Linked DNA regions of Homo sapiens: regions 1 and 2 are each linked to region 3. The links come from fine-mapping of genetic effects on gene expression. A gene starts in region 3. Each other region holds a variant in brackets. All regions are shown on one strand. Distances are from middle to middle.

Region 1 (7,612 bases), 210 kb after region 3:
ATCATTTATTGCCCCACTAAATCAAGTGTTCCTAAATATGACCCCTGCTTTCCTGCCCTTTCACTTTTGTACCTGGAATCCCTTCAACTTAGTCTGTACTTATTGAAGTGTATTGAATACCTACTAGAACCAAAATATTCTTTGGAGTTCTCTAGGGAATATATGAACAAATAGATATAGTAAGGTCTTGGCTCTCAAAGAGCTTATTGTCTAGCATAGTGTCTTCTGAAGTGTGTTCTTCAGAAGTCCTGCAAAATACAACTCAAAAATAAGGTTCTATGATCAAAGACATGAGGGAACATGGTACCATATATCATTTCTTCTGTAGGTGGTTCATAATTCTCACGAGCATGTTTATTACTCTAAGAAGTTCTGCCATAGAGAAGCTCAGAGTTTCCCAAAAGAATGTGATCACCAAACCCGTTTGTTATATAGCATCTATTAACAATCTAAAGAACTTCTGTTCAATGGAAAATACTTCAGGAAACCATGGACTAGATAAAACACACAACCGAGTAGCTACAGTGCAAGTCAAATGTCCTGAGAGCTAGTCCTGTAGCCCTAATAGGTCCATTGCTCAATGTGCACCGAAAGTCAACACACCGAGACACAGTGTTGCAGCAGAGACAGGTGTTTACTTGTAGCGCTGTCTAACAAGGAAACAGGACAAAACCTCAAATCTATCTTCCTGAGGAGTCTGAGGCTAGGAATTTTAAGGGCTTTTGAGTGGGCTGAAGTGTGGAGATTGTTGATTGGCTGACAAGTGCAGGGAAAGTCATGGGAGAGAAAGATGAGGAAATGATATTCTAATGCCGATTTGTTTTTTCTGTGGGGGGGTCTTTAAACTGATTGGCATCAGCTGGTCTACTGGAATTCAGGATTCACTTACGCAATTCTTAAATAAAATCTTACGATTCTAACATCAGAGATCTTATCTAACTTCAGAAATCCTGTCTATAGGAACAGTGGGAATGCAAACAGTATCTAGTGTCATCCGTGTCTAGAGACTCACTTACAAGGAAGTCAGTCAAAGTGCAGGCTGATTAGTGCTTAATAATAACTATATTTCTGTCCAGAATTCTTGTTAACCCTGTGAGCATGGCTTCGGTCCTTGAAACATGAGTAGGAAGATGGGGGAAACAAATGAAGGAAAGGCAGAGAAGGAAACATAAATAAAGCATCCAGGGAATAGAAAGAAGAGCAGAAGAGGTGGAGACAAGAGTTAAAGAAGCTAAAGGAAAAGAGAGTGGGTCAACACAAAGAGACCAAGAAATGACTCTTGGATTTAATGATCTTGAAGTCAGCATCAACCTTCAGAATAAAAATTCCAGGAAAATGGTGGAAGTACATAAAAGGAAATAAGGAGTAAGTAGAACAGTATGTGAATTCCAAGAAAGCAGAGATTGTTGCCTCTTTTATTTGCTGGTGCTCCCCAAACCCTAGAACCATAACTAGTGTTAAAAGAAAAACCTTCAACACTTAAATTTAACAGAATTTAATTGAGCAAAGAACAATTCATGAATTGGGAAGCCCCCAAACCAGAACAGGTTCAGAGAGGGTTTGGTGCTACTGCTTGGACAAAGAAGTTTTATGGACAGAAAAAGAAAGGTCAGGTACAGATGAGGTGCAAAAACAGATTGGTTACAGCTTGGCATTTGCCCTATTTGAACCCAGTTTGAACAGCTGGCCACCTTTGATTAGCCAACACTTGGTGATTGGCACCAGAGTAGGTTATGTAATCACTTGATGGATTCTCCCTGCCCATCACACAGGCAAAACCAGTTCACTGAGGCCATGTATTGCAGTAGAGAAAGAGTTTAATTAATGCCAGGCCAGCCACATGGCAGATAGAGTTACTACTCAAATCAGTCTCCACAAAGGCTTGGAGATTAGGGTTTTTCAAGGATAGGTTGGTGGGCAAAGGACTAGGGAATGGGTGCTGCTGACTGGTTAGGAATGCAATCACAGGGTTGTGGAAAAGAGTCCTTGTGTGCCGAGTCCACCTCAGGGTAGGGGGCCACAGGACCAGCTGGGTCAACAGTCACAAGTCTGGGTGGGGTCAGTCAGTTGCCATAATGCAAAAGTCTGAAATACATCTCAAAAGACCAATCTTAGGTTCACAATAGTGATGTTATCTCTAGAAGCAACTGGGGAAGTCACACTCCAGCCTAAGCAACAGAGTAAGACCCTATCTCAAACATAAATAAGTAAATAAATATACTAAATTATTCCCATGGTTAGCTTGCCGTATGTCCAGGAATGAGCAGACATAGCCAGCCTGAGGATAGAAGCAAGATCAAGTCAGCCATGTCAGATTTCTCTGTCATAATCTTTGCAAAGACAGTTTCAGTTATGGTCTGTTTACACATCCAGTTAGATTACAGTTCACTATGTACAGAGAAACCTTTAATGTATGTAAATATGGCTGAGTGTGCCAGCTCATGCCTATAATCCCAGCATTTTGGGAGGCTGAGGTGGGTGGATCCCTTGAGCCCAGGAATGTGAGACCAGCCTGGGCAACATGGCAAAACCCCATCTCTACAAAAAATTAGCCAGGTGCAGTGGCATGCACCTGTGGTCCTAGCTACCTGGGAGGCCGAGGTGGGAGGATTACCTGAGCCTGGGAGGTCAAAACTGCAGTAAGCCATGTTGCCGCTACTGTACTCCAGCCTGGGTGACAGAGTGAGACCCTGTTTCAAAAAATAAATAAAATAAAATATGTAAAGAGACAGCTTTAGGCTAAACTTAATTTAACACTAGCACATCGAAAGCTCTCCATAAATATTCATAAATAAGTGGATGAATTAATGTATGATGAGTGGTGGTTTAAAAAAAGTGAGGTAGGGGCCAGGCACAGTGGCTCACGCCTGTAATCCCAGCATTTTGGGAGGCAGAGGCAGGCAGATCACGAGGTCAGCAGATCCAGACCATCCTGGCTAACACAGTGAAACACCATCTCTACTAAAAATACAAAAAATTAGCCAGGCATGGTGGCGGGCGCCTGTAGTCCCAGCTACTTGGGAGGCTGAGGCAGGAGAATGGCGTGAACCCAGGATGCGGAGCTTGCAGTGAGCCAAGATTGTGCCACTGCACTCCAGCCTGGGCCACAGAGCGAGACTCCATCTCAAAAAAAAAAAAAAAAAGTGAGGCAATGGAGGTAATAAAGAAAAGACTACAATAATAGTGTAGTTGAGGAAAGGGGCAACTTGAACACACTTCCAGGCAGAGGACTCCGGTGGAAAAGTATACATCAGAGATGCAAAATAAGGAAACTGATGGGACACTATCATAATTAAAGCAAGAGGAAATGAGAACAACATCACAAGCAGTAGGATAGGAGAAGGTAGGTCTCATTATGGGTTCCATATTTCCATTAACTATATCAAAATTCACTCAACTGGCCAGGTGCAGTGGCTCACGCCTGTAATCCCAACACTTTGGGAGGCCGAGGCAGGCGGATCACGAGGTCAGGAGATCAAGACCATCCTGGCTAACACGGTGAAACCTCATCTCTACTAAAAATACAAAAAATTAGCCAGGCATGGTGGCAGGCACCTGAGGTTCCAGCTACTCGGGAGGCTGAGGCAGGAGAATGGCTGAACCTGGGAGGTGGAGCTTGCAGTGAGCCAAGATCGTGCCACTGCACTCCAGCCTGGGTGACAGAGCAAGACTCCATCTCAAAAAAAAAAAAAAAAAAAAAA[C/AC]ACTCAACCACCCAAGCTAGTAGAAATAAAAATTATTGGAAGCCATTGTTTTGGACTAAGCTCCTGTACTAGGCCCCAACAGACAAGGCTAAAAAAAATGGAGTCACCCATGCTAAAGTTCTAAGTCATCAAACCCACACTAAGTTTTTATCTCACCTTCCTAGAAGGCAGGAGAAAGAGATAACAGCCAATTTCCTCGAACAGGCCAGTTTCAATCTTCAATCCACATGATAATGAAGTTCCCTCTGCTTTAATCCTTATACAAAAGAAATAGCCTGATGTAATCTGACATTAATAAGCTGTTTTTCTGTTGTTTTAGCCTCCTGTTCCCACCTTATAAGAAGAGTTGCTTTGAAATAACTAATATTCTGTGTTCTTTGCTTCTGCTCTCTTCCGCTTTCTTCAGCCTTTCTCTGTCTATAAAGCCAATCTCTTCTGCTCAGCTTATCATGCATGCTACTAAAACGCCAAGGGTTTGGTCTAGGTGCTGCTGCTTGGTGCACAGACAGCCAATCATTGAGGCATTGAGTATTGCCAGGGAAGAAGGCTTTGAATCAAGTCCTGCATCTGAGGAGATGGGAGATCAGTCTTCAATCCATCTCCCTGACCAACTAAAATCAGAGGTTTCTGTAGCAGGGAAGAAATGTAACTATATGCAAAACACAGGAATTAGGCAGAGGTAAGGAAAATAAGTTGGTCAACAGGAAGCAGGTTGTCATTTAGGCAATCATGATGGGTAAAAAGTCTTGAGTCTCTTTGTCCAGATGCAATGATCTGGTAACTTTCAGCTCCTTGGTACTATATGGGAGGCCTGATGGTTGGTTTCCTGAGAAAGGAACTCAGATAAGACAAATGTAACTTTCTCAAGTTTTAAGACTGTGAGTGTCAGTTTCTATGTTTATTCAAAAGAAATCATAAACATCAGTTTTATGGGACAATTAGGCCAGTTTCAATCCAAACACCTACTATATTTTATGGAATAAAATATTGCCTGATTCTAGAATCTCAAACAAAGCCAACTGAGATCTTTAAATTTGTAATTTTGTTCCTTGATGCTAGAAACCCCAGTCTTCTTTAACACATCTTTGACTTTCATCCTCTTGCCTGCTTAAATGGGCACCAAGCTTTCTCAATTCCACACCTCTCATGCTCCATAGCCATTCCCATTTTTTATCCCCATGGCACTACCCTAAGTAAGGCACTTGCCATTTCTTTCCTGAAAAAATTTAATGATTTTCTGACTATGGTATGATAGATTAAATTTAACTAAAGCTTCTTAAGTATTTTAAGTTTGGCCAAAAGCTTACACCATACAGTGAACTTAAACCTAACTAGATGTGTAAATAGACTGTAAACTACACTTGTAACAAAGAGCTGAGTCTCAACCAATCACAGAACCATACTTCAGCCAATCACAGGTGGCCAGCTGTTCAAACAGCGCTCAAGTAAGACAACCATCAGGGCTATAACCAATCCAGCTGTTTCTGTACCTCACTTCCATTTTCTGTGTCACATTCCTCTTTCTGTCCATAAATCCCGTCAGAACACGTGGCACCCCAGAAGTCTCTCTAAACCTATCATAGTTGGGGGTGGGATGTGCTGCCCAATTTGTGAATCATTTTTTGCTCAATTATACTCTATTAAATTGACTTTGCCTAAAGTTTTTCTTTCAACATTAAACCATGAATTCAATGGTTTTCTGTTCTCAGCCCTTTCTCTATACTGTCATCAGCACAGTGGTCTAAAACACAGACGTGATCATGCCATTTTTTTCTTCAAAAGCGCAGCAATAGATCATTCCTTGATTTATTGAGAGCTTCCTATGTGCTAGCTGCTGGGGATGCACTGGTGAGTTATGATAAAGGGAACATTTCAAACTAGGGGCAAAGAAATCAAATGGTCATCACAAAATGAAAAGATGCTCAATGTTATTTTTCTCCCATGAGATTGGCAAAGATTTTTCTTTTTTGAGACAGCCTTGCTCTGTCGCCCAGACTGGAGTGCAATGATGTGATCTCAGCTCATTGCAACCTCCATCTCCCAGATTCAAGCGATTCTCCTGCCTTAGCCTCCTGAGTAGTTGGGACTATGGGCGTGAGCCACCATGCCCAGCTAATTTTTGTATTTTTAGTATAGATGGGGTTTCACTATGTTGGTCAGGCTGGTCTTGAACACCTGACCTCAGGTGATCCACCCGCCTCGGCCTCCCAAAGTGCTGGGAGTACAGGCATGAGCCACTGCACCTGGCCAGCAAAGATTTAAAAGAATGAAAATATCCAATGTTGGCAAATATGTGGGAAAACAAGCAACCTCATCCACTATTGGTGAGGGTATTAATAGATACAAACTTTTTAGAGGGAAATGTAGCAATAATTATTAAAATTCCAAGGCCAGGCACAGTGGCTCACGCCTGTAATCCCAGCACTTTGGGAGGCTGAGGCAGGCAGATCACTTGAAGCCAGGAGTTAGAGACCAGCCTGGCCAACATGGCAAAACCCCATCTCTACAAAAAATACAAAAATTAGCTGGGTGTGGTGGTATGTGCCTGTAGGCCCAGCTACTTGGGAGGATGAGATGGGAGAATGGCTTGAGCCCAGGAGGTAGAGGTTGCAGTGAGCCAATATAGGGGCACTGCACTCCAGCCTCAATGACAGAACCAGGCTTTGACTCAAAAAATAAAATAAAATAAAATAAATTTTAGTAATACTCATTTGCCCTAACAATGGTTATCTCTGGAATTGTGGAATTCATTATATATATATATATATATATATACACACACACACGTGTATATATATATATATATATGTGTACACGTATATATATATATACATGTATATACATATATATTTATATATATATATATAATGTGTGTATATATATATATATATATATACACATTTTTTTTTGAGACAGTCTCACTCTGTCATCCAGGCAGGGGTGCAGTGGCGCAATCTCAGCTCACTGTAACCCCCGCCTCCCAGGCTCAAGCAATTCTTGTGCCTCAGCCTCCCAAGTAGCTGGGATTATAGGTGTGTGCCACCATGCCCGGCTAATTTTTGTATTTTTTGTAAGTTCAAGCAATTCTCCTGCCTCAGCCTCCCGAGTAGCTGGGTTTACAGGCGCCTGCCACCATGCCTGGCTAATTTTTGTATTTTTAGTAGAGACAGAGTTTCCCCATGTTGGCCAGGCTGGTCTTGAACTCCTGACCTCAGCCTCCCAAAGTGCTAGGATTACAGGCATGAGCCACTGCGCCGGGCCTGGAATTATTATATAAAAAACTTTTTTATATTCCTAGAAATCTGTAAGGCAAAAATAAAAAATAAAGACAGAAAAAGAAAAAAAAACTAACTTTTTACTTCTCCGAGTATTTTTCACTACTTTTCATAGTATTTAAATGTTTATGTTTATGATTATTCTTATCATCATTATTATTATTATTATTTTGAGACGGAGTCTCACTCTGTCGCCCATTCTGGAGTGCAGTGGCAAGATCTCGTCTCACTGCAACCTCTGCCTCCCAGGCTCAAGTTAGTCTCCTGCCTCAGCCTCCCGAGTAGCTGGGATTACAGGTGTGTGCCACCATGTCTGGCTAATTTTTTTGCATTTTTGGTAGAGATGGGGTTTCGCTATGTTGCCCAGGCTGGTCTTGAACTCCTGGCCTCAAATGATCTGCCCGCCTCGGCCTCCCAAAGTGCTGGGATTGCAGGCATGAGCCACTGCACCCAGCCTTATTTATTTTTCAATTTAAAAAATGATACAAAAATGTCATCAAGAAAATTTTTTTTCTTTAATGGATTCATGCTTTTTAGGACAACATTCAAGGCTCTTCAAAATGAGCCCCTAGCCCCACAATTTCACCTCTACCATTCCCATCCACCCTTCCCTCACCCAGAATTATCCTAGGTGAT
Region 2 (7,095 bases), 39 kb after region 3:
TTGCCAGGGGCCGCACCAGCTTTCCCGTCCCGGGCCAGCGCAGGCGCTCAGGCCTCGGAGGCGGGGCGATGGCCACCTCCCACCGAGTGGCGAAGCTGGTGGCCTCCAGTCTCCAGACCCCGGTAAATCCCATCACTGGAGCGCGGGTCGCCCAGTACGAACGCGAAGACCCCTTAAAGGCCCTGGCGGCAGCGGAGGCGATCTTGGAGGACGAAGAGGAGGAGAAAGTGGCTCAGCCCGCTGGGGCATCGGTAATACTGGGGCGGGACTTGGGCTGGGACCTCGCATGGGCTGGGTGCAGGCTGAGGGCTGTCCGGTTCCCCGCCCAGCTGAGGGCAGGCTGGTAAACGCGGGTCCCTGTGCACATAGTCCCTACTTGGTGGTCCTGGCCCAGCCCCTTCTCTACGCTCACGAAAATTACTCTAAATCGAGGCGTTGAAAAGTGTTTTAATTTTCACCAGTCTGTTGTAAAAGCTTCCTAGACAACATTTATGTTACTCTGCTTCTGGCAAGTGCAAAGTATAGAATTTTACTCTCTACTCTCCAGCATCTCGGGAATGGATATATAGAGATATATCTGGCTATATATAGTAATTTGAGGAAAACTGTTCTGTCAGGTGTGTTTCGTTATTACCTTAAGATCTTGGTTATAAGCGGATCTCAACATAGTGCTCTAAAGATGTGTGTTTAAAACCATCACGTGTTCACTGGCTAAATCAGACACGGATACAGATAAGCAAATCACTGAGGTTTCAGTGTTTCCTAAACAGCTCTTTAGGGTACAGCGAGACGGCCTTTTCACTGATCAGTTTTCATTGTTAAATCTGTTGTGGACACCAGTCCAGCAGGTAGAGGGCAGGGTCTGCCATCTGCTCAATTCACTTAAAAGATGGGAATCTTGGCCGGGCGCGGTGGCTCGTGCCTATAATCCCAGCACTTTGGGAGGCCGAGGTGGGCGGGTTACGAGGTCAGGAGTTCGAGACCAGCCTGACCAACATGGTGAAACCCCGTCTGTACTAAAAATACAAAATTTAGCCGGGCGTGGTGGTGCGCCCCTGTAATCCTAGTTACTCGGAAGGCTGAGGCAGGAGAATCGCTTGAACTTGGGAGGTGAGGGTTGCAGTGAGCTGAGATCTCAGACCCAGTCTCAAAAAAAAAAAAAAAAAAAAAAGATGGGAATCTTGAATTTAAACTAGCAATCTGCAGATAGAAAAAATTTCCTAATACCATGTGTCCAAAGCTTCTCAGACACCAAACTTATGATTGAGGACTAACTGAAATCACTGGATATTTTGGAATTCTGATCTCTTTAATCTACAGTAAAATTGTTAATGAGAACATCTTTAGCAACACCTTTTGTGACCAATCTTTCACCAACAGACAAACAACTTGAAGTTATCCAGAGTAAGGCAGACTGAGACCCTGAACATGAACCAGGATCAGAGTGCTAGGACCGATTTTGTTCATGATGAAGCTACCCCTCAACACAATTTTCAGTAGGCAACAAGGCAACGTGATGGAGAAAAAGGATTGAAGAGTTCTGTATTAGGATCCATTCCCTGCCACTTCCTAGGTGGTGTTAGGACATAATTTCCTTAAACCTCAGTTTCCTTATCTGTAAAATAACTATAATAATTGTCTCTTTTTTCCCATCTCAGCTCTATGAGAACCAAATGAAAGAATGTGTGTCTCCTCTAAAGAGCAATCTATGTAAATGAGTTGCCAGTGGGAGTGTCATTTGTGTGCCTTCCCAAAGATTAAACTCAACTTTGGCTTGCTGTGGTAAAGGAGTCAGTCACTTCTAAGTTGCAGATATGCTTCCACAGTGCCCTGTTAAACTGCAAATTTGTGTTAGAAACTGTTATTACCTTAGGAGGGATCAGTTTATACAATAATCTAGTTTGGAAAGGACAGGATCCTACAAAAAAAAAAAGGAAGCCAAGTCTTAAGAGTTTGGTACTGTTCTGAGACCACCAC[A/C]CATGAGGGATCCAAAAGTAAAGCTGGGTAAGCTGCCACAGTGGGCCTGATAGCCAGGGGGCACAGGCTGGGGGAAGAGGCATTAAGAAGGCAGGAAGAGTGCAGGAAATAGGCTCTGCTTTCTTCACTGGTTGGCTTGGGTCTCCATCTTGATTTTTAAAGGTTAATTTGCCTTAACCTTATTATCTATAAAATGTAGTAAAGTCAAATATTATACCTAACCCACAAGATTGATTTGAGAACCACCCATCACAATAGGCCTCTTTCAGCTCTTTGGTTTTGCCAAAGCCAGACCACTCATCCCACCCCACACTGCCCCCCAACCCCCCAACCCCTGCACCATCCCTATACACCCTCCCAGCTCTGGCATACACACGCACCCCCCTTGCAGTGCCCATATTGGGCACTGATGCCTGTTCCTTGAATCTAGCCTTAGTCAGAGATGTTGGTCCACATATCCTGTTATATGACTGATGATGACACAGGTAACGCAGTATTCTGTAATTCGCAATTAAAATCTCACTCCTCCCAGCACTTTGGGAGGCTGAGGCAGGTAGATCACTTGAGGTCAGGAGTTTGAGGCCAGCCTGGCCAACATGGCAAAACCCGGTCTCTACTAAAAATACAAAAAGTAGCCGGACGTGGTGGCACGCGCCTGTAATCCCAGCTACTAGGGGGCGCTGAGGCAGAATTGCCTGAACCCGGGAGGCGGAGGTTGCAGTGAGCTGAGATGCAAAAACTGCACTCCAGCCTGGGCAACAGAGTGAGACTATGTCTCAAAAAAATAAATAAATAAAAAGAAAAAATAAAATCTCACTCCTAATGGGGCAACCTTATCTTTTCAACAAATATTGAACATTTATTAAGTGCTAGTCATTAACTATTCAGTGTATATATAGCTCACATCCTCACAGAATTTTCAGTCTGGTGAGGGAAATCAGACAATTAAAAATGAACAGGGCCGGGCGCGGTGGCTCACATCTGTAATCCCATCACTTTGGGAGGCTGAGGTGGGTGGATCACCTGAGGTTGGGAGTTCAAGACCAGCGTGACCAACATAGAGAAACCCCATCTCTACTAAAAATACAAAATTAGCCGGGCGTGGTGGCACATGCCTGTAATCTCAGCTACTCAGGAGGCTGAGGCAGGAGGATCGCTTGAACCCGAGAGGTGGAGGTTGCAGTGAGCCGAGATCACGCCATTGTATTCCAGCCTGGACAACAAGAGCGAAACTCCATCTCAAAAAACAAAAAATGAACAGACACATAACTATAAGATGGGAAATGTTGGGAAAGAAATGAACAGCCTATAATGATTAAAAATAAATAGGAGAGAACCTATTGTTTTTCTTCTGACTCCACTTTTTATTTATTATTTTTTGAGACAGAGTTTCACTCTCTTGTCCAGGCTGGAATGCACTGGTGCAGTCACAGGTCACTGCAGTCTCAACCTCCCAGGATCAATCAATCTCCTCACCTCAGCCTCCCAAGTAGCTGGAACTAAAGGTGCATGCCACCACGCCCAGCTAATTTTTATATTTTTTGTAGAGACAGAGTTTCACCATGTTCCCCAGGCTGGTCTCGAACTCCTGGGCTCAAGTGATCCACCTGCCTTGGCCTCCCAAAAGTGCTGGGATTATAGGCGTGAGCCACTGTGCCTGGCTCCACTGTCGATATACATACATACATACACATATACACACATACACACGAACGCACACACACATATATTTTTTTGAGATGGAGTTTTACTCTTGTTGCCCAGGCTGGAGTGCAGTGGCGTGATCTTGGCTCACCACAACCTCCACCTCCCAGGTTCAAGCGATTCTCCTGCCTCAGCCTCCCAAGTAGCTGGGATTACAGGCGTGTGCCACCACGCCCGGCTAATTTTGTATTTTTAGTAGAGACGGGGTTTCTCCATGTTGGTCAGGCTGGTCTCCAACTCCTGACCTCAGGTGATCCGCCCGCCTCAGCCTCCCAAAGTACTGGGATTACAGGCATGAGCTACCATGCCTGGCCTATATTTTTAAATTCACCTGTTATTTTAGATACAGAGGTGCATGTGCAGGTTTGTTACATGGGTATATTGCATCCAGGTAGTGAGCATGGTACCCAATAGATAGTTTTTCAACCTACGCCGCCCTCCCTCCCTCCCTCCCTCCCCACCTGGTGGTAGCCCGCAGTGTCTGTGGTTTCCATGTTTATGTTCGTGTGTACTCATTATTTTACCTGCCACTTATGAGAACATGTGATATTTGGTTTTCTGTTAATTTGTTTAAGATTATGTCCTACAGCTCCATCCACGTGGCTGTGAAGGACATGATTTCATTCTCTTTTTTTTTTTTTTTTTGTGATGGAGTCTCGCTCTGTCACCAGGCTAGAGTACAGTGGCACAATCTCGGCTCAATGAGACCTGTGCCTCCTGGGTTCAAGTGATTCTCCTGCCTCAGCCTCCTGAGTAGCTAGGACTACAGGTGCACACCACCACACCTAGCTAATTTTTGTATTTTTAGTAGAGACGGGGTTTTACCATGTTGGCCAGGATGATCTTGAACTCCTGACCTCAAGTGATTCGCCAGCCTTGACCTCCCAAAGTGCTGTGATTACAGGCCTGAGCCACCATCCTGGCCTAATTTTTTTATTTTTATTTTTATTTTGTAAAATAAAGGTCTCACTATGTTGCCCAGGGTGGTCTCAAACTCCTGGGCTCAAGCAATTCGCCCTCCTCGGCCTCCCATAGTGCTCGGGTTAGAAGTATATGCCACCATACCAGGTGACATTCTTCTCTTAAAATATCAAATGTTACATATGACGCTTAGGCCCTTTTAACAACTCTCCCCCAGAAGAGAAAATATGAATACCTACTCCCTCCCTAATGGTAGCCACTGTTTCAAAATTGATATGTATTCTATTCTCTGGCCGTTTTTCTATCTCCTCCATATATTTTAATATACAGTACATACTATATAAATATATAAATAAATATATAAATATATATAAGTATATAAATATTTAAATATATATATAAATATATATATTTAAATATATATATAAATATATATATTTATATATATATAAATATATATAAATATATAAATATATATATAAATATATATAAATATATAAATATATATATAAATATATATAAATATATAAATATATATATATATAAATATATATATAAATATATATAAATATATATATATAAATATATATAAATATATAAATATATATATAAATATATATAAATATATATATAAATATATATATAAATATATATATAAATATATATATAAATATATATAGATATATATATATAAATATATATATAGACAGAGAGAGGGAGATAGTTCTGCAACTTGCTTTTTTTTCTTATTTATTGGGAGTTTACCCATGTTAGTACATGTAGATCTCTCTCATTCTTTACAAATTCAGCGAAAAAAATTTTTTCAAAAATTACAGGTTGCAGATGAAACTATATAGGCTGCAGCACAAATAATTCTTCATAGGTGCTGATTACTAATAAAGCAACAGGTACTGGAAGGATTCATTATCTAAATGGGTCAAGCCAATCTAGGGAAGATTATCCTCTAATCTGGTGGCTGCATTTACAACATTCCACAAAAAGCCGATTAAAGGGAGAGGATGCTATTTTAGGCTCTTGGAAAAATAATGTCTATGGCCTAGGTTATTTTGTATACTAAATATTTTCTCAGTGGAGACAATTAAAGATTAAATTAGAATTGGAGGTCATTTACTAGCCATTCATCTGTTTTAGGTTAAACACTGTGAGATCAGTTTATCTGAAAAGTTTCAGCTAGCGTTAACAGTATTAAGCTGAAAACAGAATGGATCCAGTGCAAAATCAGTACATAAGTATAATTTATCAGACCTGCCGCATCTTTCAGAAGCTACTCATTCTTCTATATGGTTTTCAAACGGTTCTTCCAGGTCCAAATAAATTTGATCCTTCTTGTGTAAATGACTGCTATAAGACATGATTTTTAAGAGATATTCTAAAAGAATGAATGAGAGCGCATAGATTCTTTTGCTTAAAAACAGTTCTTTGAAATACCCTCCCTGTTTTAATTATAGTTTTTGGAACATAGGCCTTTTTCTTAATACTTGGTGGAATATAGCTCTTTAGAGCAGCCAGCATTTCTTTGCATGGTTCATTCTTTTGGGAGGGAGTAACTGCCCTCTTCCCAAGGTGGAATTTTTTTTTTCTGTACATTCATTCATTCATTCAGTAAATATTCCTTGAACATCTGCCATTAGCCAGGTACTTTTCTAGACACTGGGGACACAACATTAAACAAAGCAGACAAATCCTTGCCTTTCTTTTTGTTTTGTTTTGTTTTTTTGAGACAGGGTCACACTGTTACCCAGGCTGGAGTGCAGTGCCTCCATCATAGCTCACTGCAGCCCCAACCTCCTGGGCTCAGGTGATCCTTCCGCCTCAGTCCCCCAACTAGCTGGGACTATAGGTGCATACTACCTCACCAAGCTAATTTTTTGTATTTTTTGTAGAGATGAGGCCTTGACGTGTTACCCAGGCTGGTCTGAAACTCCTGGGCTCAAGCAATCCACCTGCCCCAGCCTCCCAAAGTGCTGGGATTACAGGCCTGAGCCATCAGGCCTGGCAAATTCTTACCTTTGTAATGTTTACTTTTTGGTAGGGGCAGGCATATAATACACAATCAAGTACAGATATGTAGGACGTCAATGGTGATGAGTACTTCTGGGAAAAATAAGACAGACAAGGGGGCTGACAGTGAGTCCTGGGAGAAGTTGTAATTTTAAATAGGAGAGTCAGGGAAGACCTTATTGAGAAGACAACATTTACATAAAGACCTGAAGGAGTGAGCAAGTGGGTCATGTGGATATCTGGAGGAAAAGGCATCCTAGGGAGAGGGAACAGCAAGTGCAAAGGCCTTGAAGTAATTCTGTGGATTTTTGTTTCTTTTTTTTTGAGATGGAGCCTCACTCTGTCACCCAGGCTAGAGTGCAGTGGTGCGATCTTGGTTCACTGCAACCTCTGCCTCCTGGATTCAAGCGATTCTCCTGCCTCAGCCTCCCGAGTAGCTGGGATTATAGGCATGCACCACCACACCCGACT
Region 3 (7,612 bases):
CGCCACTGCACTCCAGGCTGGGCGACAGAGCGAGACTCCGTTTCAGGGGGGAAAAAAAAAGAACGATGCAAACAGTAAGGCTTAGGAAAACGGGGCTTAATGGTGGTCTCGATAATAAACTAATGCAGAGAAAAATACAAAATAACAACAAACACTGTCTTTGAATTGGAGTAAAACCTAAGAGAGATAAGATACATACAGCCCTCTCTTCTTTTCTTTTCTTTTTTTTTTTTTTGAGACAGAGTTTCCCTCTTGTTGCCCAGGCTGGAGTGAAATGGCACGATCTCGGCTCACCGCAACCTCCACCTCCCAGGTTCAAGCGATCCTCCTGCCTCAGCCTCCCCAGTAGCTGGGAATACAGGTGCATGCCACAACACCGGGCTAATTTTTTGTATTTTTAGTAGAGACAGGGTTTCACCGTGTTAGCCAGGATGGTCTCAATCCCCTGACCTCAGCTGATCCACCCTCCTCCGCCTCCCAAGGTGCTGGGATTACAGCATGAGCCACCGCACCTGGCCCCTCCTCTCTTCTTTTCTAACCTTAACCAGTTCCTGGCTCAGTCCTATTATTGAGGGTCTAGGACATCGTGGGCTATTCATTCTAAAGAGAACCTTCATTTGGATGGCTGACAAAGTATTATTGTTTTGTAAAACCTATTTCATAAATTATTAAGGAAATTGTATTGTTATTGCCAACATTCCCACATATGCCTTACGTCTGCTTGGATCTGACAGGAAAGTATTTTTGTTTGTTTGGTTTTGTTTTGTTTTGGAAAGTATTTTTTAAATATAGGAAAGCTGGCCGGGCATGGTGGCTCATGCCTTTTATCCCAGCACTTTGGGAGGCCAAGGCAGGCGGATCACCGGGTCAGGAGATCGAGACCATTCTGGCTAACACGGTGAAACCCCCTCTCTACTAAAAATACAAAAAACTAGCCGGGCTTGGTGGTGGGCGCCTGTAGTCCCAGCTACTCAGGAGGCTGAGACAGGAGAATGGCGTGAACCCGGGAGGCGGAGCTTGCAGTGAGCCGAGATTGTGCCACTGCACTCCAGCCTGGGTGACAGAGCGAGACTCCATCTCAAAAATAAATAAATAAATAAAAAATAAATATCAGAAAGTTTTAAAAACATTTTTACCCTTCATTAGCAACAGTGCTTTGCTTAAAGTACTCTACACAAGTGTTTATGTTTTTGTTTTGTTTTGAGATGGAGTCTCACTCTGTCGCCCAGGCTGGAGTGCAGTGGCATGATCTCGGCTCACTACAACCTCTGCCTCCCGAGTTCAAGTGATTCTCCTGCCTCAGCCTCCCGAACAGCTGGGATTACAGGCATCTGACACCACGCCTGGCTAATTTTTGTATTTTTAGTAGAGATGGGATTTCACCATCTTGGCCAGGCTGGTCTTGAACTCCTGTGATCCACCCACCTTGGCCTCCCAAAGTGCTGGGATTACAAGTGTGAGCCACCACGCCCGGCCATGTTTAGGTTTTAATATTTGTTGAAATCCCATTTTAATGGAGAAATAATGTACATTAACACTCTGATGAAAGCCGATGTTTAACATTTATTTACTGCCTAATCCCACGAACAAAAATAATTCCAATTTCACAGAAAAAGAAATGTTTGTAACTTGAAACATTTCAGATACTTAAAGCATGTCTCAAAACTTTAAGACTCTCCCAAGAAGCCAATAATGGCATCTTCCAAATTCTGCTCTGTCCTTTATGGCTGACAGATCGACTCCTTACACTGGTAGAACTAGTAGTTTAGTAAGCCCCTAGAGATCATCTAGTTCAACCCTCCTATTTTACAGATGAGGAAAATGAGACCCAAAGGATTTAAGTGGCCTTCCTTAGGTCACATAGCTAATAAGTAGCAGAGCTATTAATAAACTCAAATCCAGTATTTTACATCCCAAAATTAATGCATTTCCTCATCACCCACTTGTTTCCAACATATTACATCAGTTGTCTAAACAAATAACCATAGAATTTATGTGCTACTTGGGAGTATTCTGGTCCTCTGAAGAGAAGTCGGCCTCAGAGGTTTATGGATCTTCATTTCCTAGTGCTAATATCCTTCTTTTTTTTTTTTTTTTTTTTTTGAGACAAAGTCTTGCTCTATCACCCAGGCTGGAGTGCAGTGGCGCAATCTCGGCTCACTGCAACCTCCACTTCCTGGCTTCAAGGGATTCTCCTGCCTCAGCCTCCCGAGTAGCTGGGATTACACCCCCGGTTAATGTTTTGATTTTTAGTAGAGACGGGGTTTCGCCACGTTGGCTAGGCTGGTCTTAAACTCCTGACCTAAAGCGATCCACCCACCTCGGCCTCCCAAAGTGCTGGGATTACAGGCGTGAGCTACTGAGCCAGGCCCCTAGTGCTAATATGCTAAATGTGTGTTAAAGAACAACTTGGCGAGGTGGCTCTCGCCAAGCCTGCAATCCTAGCACTTTGGGAAGCCGAGGCGGGCCTATCACCTGAGCTCGGGAGTTCGAAACCACCCTGTCCAACATGGAGAAACCCCGTCTCTACTAAAAATACAAAATTAGCCGGGCATGGTGGTGCATGCCCGTAATCCCAGCTACTGGGGAGGCTGAGGCAGGAGAATCGCTTGAACCCGGGAGGCGGAGGTTGCGGTGAGCCGAGATGGTGCCACTGCTCCAGCCTGGGCAACAAGAGTGAAACTCCGTCTCAAAAACAAACAAAAACAAACAAACAAACAACACCACCACCACCTCATAATTACAAGATTAAGTACCTTTGAACATTTGTTTCTGAACCTACCACACGCAACTGTCACTTTGCAGGTGCTTAATAATTGTGAGCGAACATTCAACAAACCTCATTTCATAAACTTCCCTACTGAAATATAGTGGTCATAGGAGACCAGCAGTTTAGCTCATGGCTTCTGGTCCTTGCTTTGTATTGGAATACTGCTTCTATCTACTGACTCGTTTACCCTGGGCTTCAGTTCCTTCTTTGGGCTCCAGTTCTCTCACCTTTTAAGTAAAGGATTATTGTGAGGACTAAACGAGATATAAAACGTGTAAAGGTTTAGCACTGTGCTTAGCAGATAACGGAAATAAATGATCTTTATTATAATGTTTACGTTCCCTAAGAGTCAGTGGCTACGTCATGCAGGAGACACTAGTGTAGAACAAGCGGGCGGTGGTAACTAGACAGACCTGATTTGGCAGTCTGTCAAACCTCCACCACCCAGTATCAACCAATACGAGATAACTAACCTCGCCTCATTCCAAATCTCCCTTTTCTGACTCCCTTTCAAAATGAACAAAACTGCATAAAATGCAGGTCTATGTGGCCGGGCAAAAACAGACTCAGTCATATCCCTTAGAGAGTTATTCCGGCGCCCACCCCACCTCGCGGATAGATCCAGCCGGAGTTAAAGGAGGGCACCTCCGGGTGGGCGCGGTGGCTCACGCCTGTAATCCCAGTACTTTGAAACGCTGAGGAGGGTGGACCGCTTTGAGCCGGGGAGGTCAGACCAGCCTGGGCAACACAGCGAAACCCAGTCTCGCTATGTTTCGAATACAAAAATTCGCTAGGCATGGTGGCGGGCACCTGTCGTCCTGGCTAGTTGGGAGGCTGTGGCGGGAGGATCGCTTGGGCCCCGGAGGTCGAGGCTGCAGTGAGCCAAGATCGCCCCACTGCACTCCCGCCTGGACGACAGAGCGAGACTCTGTCAAAAAAAAAAAAAAAAAAAAAAAAGGCCGGGCTTCGTGGCTGACGCCTGTAATCCCAACACTTTGGGAGCCCGAGGCGGGTGGATCACCTGAGGTCGGGAGTTCGAGACCGGCCTGGCCAACATGGTGAAACCCTGTCTCTACTAAAAATACAAAAATTAGCTGGGCATGGTGGCGGACGCCTGTAATCCCAGCTACTCGGGAGGCTGAGGAGGATCGCTTGAACCTGGGAGGCGGAGGCTGCAGTGAGCCGAGATTTTGCGCCACTGCACTCCAGCCTGGGCAACAGAGTGAGACTGTATCCAAAAAAAGAAAAAAAAAAAAAAAAAAAGGAGGGGACCTCATAGCCGTGCAAGGTGGAGTGAGGAAATGCGGATGTCCTCACCACTCGCCTTTAAAATCGCGCGTTGTCATTGCTGCCTCGCGTAAAGGTTCCCCCGGCGCTCTTCACCCACAGCGCCCCGGGCGTACAATCTCGCCAGCCCGGAGCCCACCGCACGCATCCTCCTCGCCCGGCGCGCAGCGGACAGCCTCCTACGTCACGCCAGCGCCGCGCGGCAAGGAAGGCCCCCTTCTCCGCCTCCGCCTCCTCCCGACGCCGGCGCCGCTTTCTGGAAGGTTCGTGAAGGCAGTGAGGGCTTACCGTTATTACACTGCGGCCGGCCAGAATCCGGGTCCATCCGTCCTTCCCGAGCCAACCCAGACACAGCGGAGTTTGCCATGCCCGAGAATGTGGCACCCCGGAGCGGGGCGACTGCCGGGGCTGCCGGCGGCCGCGGGAAAGGCGCCTATCAGGACCGCGACAAGCCAGCCCAGATCCGCTTCAGCAACATTTCCGCCGCCAAAGGTATCACTCTCATGGCCTGACCCGCGGCGCCGCGGGGTTGTGCTCTGCGCTCTCATCGTGGGCTTGAGCGGGTTTGGCTCATTTCCCATTTCTTCGGGTGATCCTCTCTTGTCCTCCCTATAGAAGCAGCCCAGTGGAGGGATCCTTATTTCTGTTTTTCTGCCGATGATCGCCAACCCGGAGTATGGAGGCCTTTGGACTTGCCCCATTTTGCATCTTAATCTCCCTTAGTTTTTCATCCTGCACTGTGCATCATTCATATTGGAGCCGAAAGCAGTTCAAAATGCCGAGGATTGCATGCAGTCTTCACTAGGGATCTGACGCTTGAGGGCTGTCGCTTATTGCTTATTGGAACTGGTAGAATGCACAGTATCTTTCAGCTTTGTTATTCTTATTTAAAGAACTATTAAATAAACTTCACTTGGCACAACTGTTGAGACGAATTGGGTGAACTCTCCGAGTCTAAATTGGGGCGGGGCCCATTGTACTGGGATGGATGTGGGAACCGACTTACGTGTCGTGTTTGAAATAGTTGCGGAAAAGTTACGTTGATGTCGTCTCCGCATGTGCAGTGAAACATAGGCAAATCAAGAAACAATTATTTGTTTTTTTTGTGGAAGTGTGTGGCACACGTTGGAAATCAGGAAGACCAGAGTTTCATTCTCTGCTTCCGTTACTTCATGTCTTAGTGACCTGTAACCTCTGTGCCAAAGATTCACTTATAAAATTGGAGGAAAATGTTTGCTTTTTAGAGTTAAGATTAAGAGAAATCGAGTTGAAATAGAAAAATCTGGAAGGAAAAGTCAGGACAGAGGTTTAGAGATCTTGCCCGAGTGTATATTGAGTATAGTAGTTCTTTTGGGTTGGAGAATAGTAGTATGTTTACAGAAGAGGTGAGATTAGAAAGCTAGGTTGGGGCAGATGTTAAAGGCCTGGTGTCCTGGAAAGTATTTGGCTTAATCTCCCCCAGCTATGGGATCATTTCTTTTTAGCCATCGTGTAGGCTTGCTGTGAGGATTCAGTGAGAAAGCATATAAAGACCCACGTATATAAAGTACACCTTACATGTGTTTGCAGTCATCAGCCCAAGTAACTGGGAATGTGATGGCGCTAAGATAGGTAACGCTGGATGTAAGAAAAAGTAATAGTTTCTAACTTGTCCTAATGAGTTGGAAAGGTCAGAATGGCCAGATTTAGGAGTCATTTGTAAGTTTAGGAGATAATACACCTGGAAACGAAGGTTTGTAGGATAATTGTCTAGGGACCATAGTTGAAGCTTACATTTATTAGATTAGGAACAGAATGTTGAAAGATAAATTTTGGGTCGGGCAGGGTGGCTCACGTCTGTAATCCCAGCAATTTGGGAGGCTGAGGCTGGCGGATCACATGAGGTCAGGAGTTCAAGACCAGCCTGACCAACATGGAGAAACCCCGTCTCTACTAAAAATACAAAATTAGGTGGGTGTGTTGGCGTAGGCCTGTAGTCCCAGCTACTCGGGAGGCTGAGGCAGGGGAATAGCTTGAACCTGGGAGGCGGAGGTTGCCGTGAACTGACGTCGCGCCATTGCACTCCAGCCAGGGTGACGAGCGAAACTCCGTCTCAAAAAAAAAAAAAGATAAATTTGGGGGCCAAGAGAGTTTATAATATGGTTGATATTCAACAAACAAAATAAGTGGGAAATTTAGCAACCTTTGAAACAAAAGCAGACAAAGAACTGAAACAACAGAGGAGGGTGTGCATGTGGGAAGGAAAGGCCACCTAAGTTATCTGTGAAGATGACCCGTTATGTCTTAAACTCCTGGCCTCAAGTGACGGCCTGCCTTGGCTTCGCAAAGCGCTGGGATTACAGGCGTGAGCCACCGCACCCGGCCCCAGAGATGTTTTATAACATACTGATGATGACCAAAAGCTATGATTTGAGAGTTTTGGTTTTTGTTTGGTTTGTTAGGTTTGGTTTGTTTGTTGAGATGGAGTCTGTCTTGCTCTGTCCCCCAGGCTGGAGTGCAGTGGTGTGATCTCTGCTCATTGCAACTTCTGCCTCCTGGGTTCAAGCGGTTCTCCTGCCTCAGCCTCCCGAGTAGCTAGCTGGGACTACAGATGCGCACCGCCACACCCGGCTCATTTTTGTATTAGTAGAGGCAGGGTTTCGCCATGTTGTCCAGGCTGGTCTCGAACTCCTGACCTTAGGTGGTCTGCCCGCCTCAGCCTCTCAAAGTGCTGGTATTACAAGTGTGAGCCATCACGCCCAGCCTTGTTGGATTTTTTAGAAGAGTATCTTGCTCTGTAGCATTTCCATTGTGGTTTGCCCTTTTGGCGGTGTTGGCGGGCCACCTATCTACCATGTTCACATTAGTGAACAAAAGTCTTTGCTCTCAGAGATTACATACTAGACAGAGTAAACAAATAAGTGAATTATCTGTAAATTGAGCATTCCTAATTTGAAATACTCCAAAATTCAAAACACTTCTGGTCCTAATCATTTTGGAAAAAGGATACTCCTCCATCAGTATTTTAGATCTAGACAGTTCTGTTGCTGCTTGTCCTGTTTTAGGAATGGAGGAAATAGCAATTCTCAGAGCTCCTAACTAGATTGTACCATTTTGACATCTGAAGGAAGATGAGATGAATCCTCAAAATGTATTCTGCCATAAGCTGATTACAAATACTAGGCCAGGCGTGGTGGCTCACACCTGTAATCCCAGCATTTTGGGAGGCCGAGGCAGGCGGATCTTGAGGCCAAGAGATTGAGACCATCCTGGCCGACATGGTGAAACCCCATCTCTACTAAAAAATACAAAAAAATTAGCTGGGTGTGGTGGCACGTGCCTGTAGTCCCAGCTACTCCAGAGGCTGAGGCGGAAGAATCACTTGAACTCAGGAGGCGGAGGTTGCAGTGAGCCGAGATTGCCTCACTGCACTCTAGCCTTGTGACAGAGTGAGACCATGTCTCAAAAAATAATAATAATAATACTGTGTACGTTGACTAACAGAAGTGAAGCATCATACATTTAAAAGAAAAATAATTGTTGCCAATAGATTATTTTTAGACAATGAATTTTCTT

Direction of the effects. Positions count from the first base shown, and alleles are read on the strand shown. Sizes are in standard deviations (SD) of each study's normalised expression. Not every link is listed here.
For the expression in fibroblasts of the gene that starts at base 4,274 in region 3, AC is the low allele of the variant in region 1 and C is the other (large effect, 1.3 SD a copy in GENCORD).

Evidence for each region.
Region 1: its variant is fine-mapped to the expression of CCT4 in fibroblasts (GENCORD, PIP 0.95).
Region 2: its variant is fine-mapped to the expression of CCT4 in whole blood (INTERVAL, PIP above 0.99).

What each region holds. Positions count from the first base shown.
Region 1 is chr2:61,672,282-61,679,893 of GRCh38, reverse strand. No RefSeq gene overlaps it. Among named protein-coding and RNA genes, the nearest start is that of XPO1, 140 kb to the right of the region's middle. The variant C/AC (reference allele first, on the strand shown) is at 3,702.
Region 2 is chr2:61,847,015-61,854,109 of GRCh38, reverse strand. It overlaps FAM161A (FAM161 centrosomal protein A), which reads left to right and starts at 50. Exons shown (of 7, transcript NM_001201543.2): 1 at 50-251. The coding sequence starts at 69. RefSeq lists enhancers at 117-276, 437-566. The variant A/C (reference allele first, on the strand shown) is at 1,978.
Region 3 is chr2:61,885,318-61,892,929 of GRCh38, reverse strand. CCT4 (chaperonin containing TCP1 subunit 4) reads left to right here and starts at 4,274. Exons shown (of 14, transcript NM_006430.4): 1 at 4,274-4,549. The coding sequence starts at 4,423. It also overlaps a transcript of COMMD1 not described here. RefSeq lists enhancers at 3,005-3,564, 4,504-4,583, 4,125-4,684, 4,685-5,246.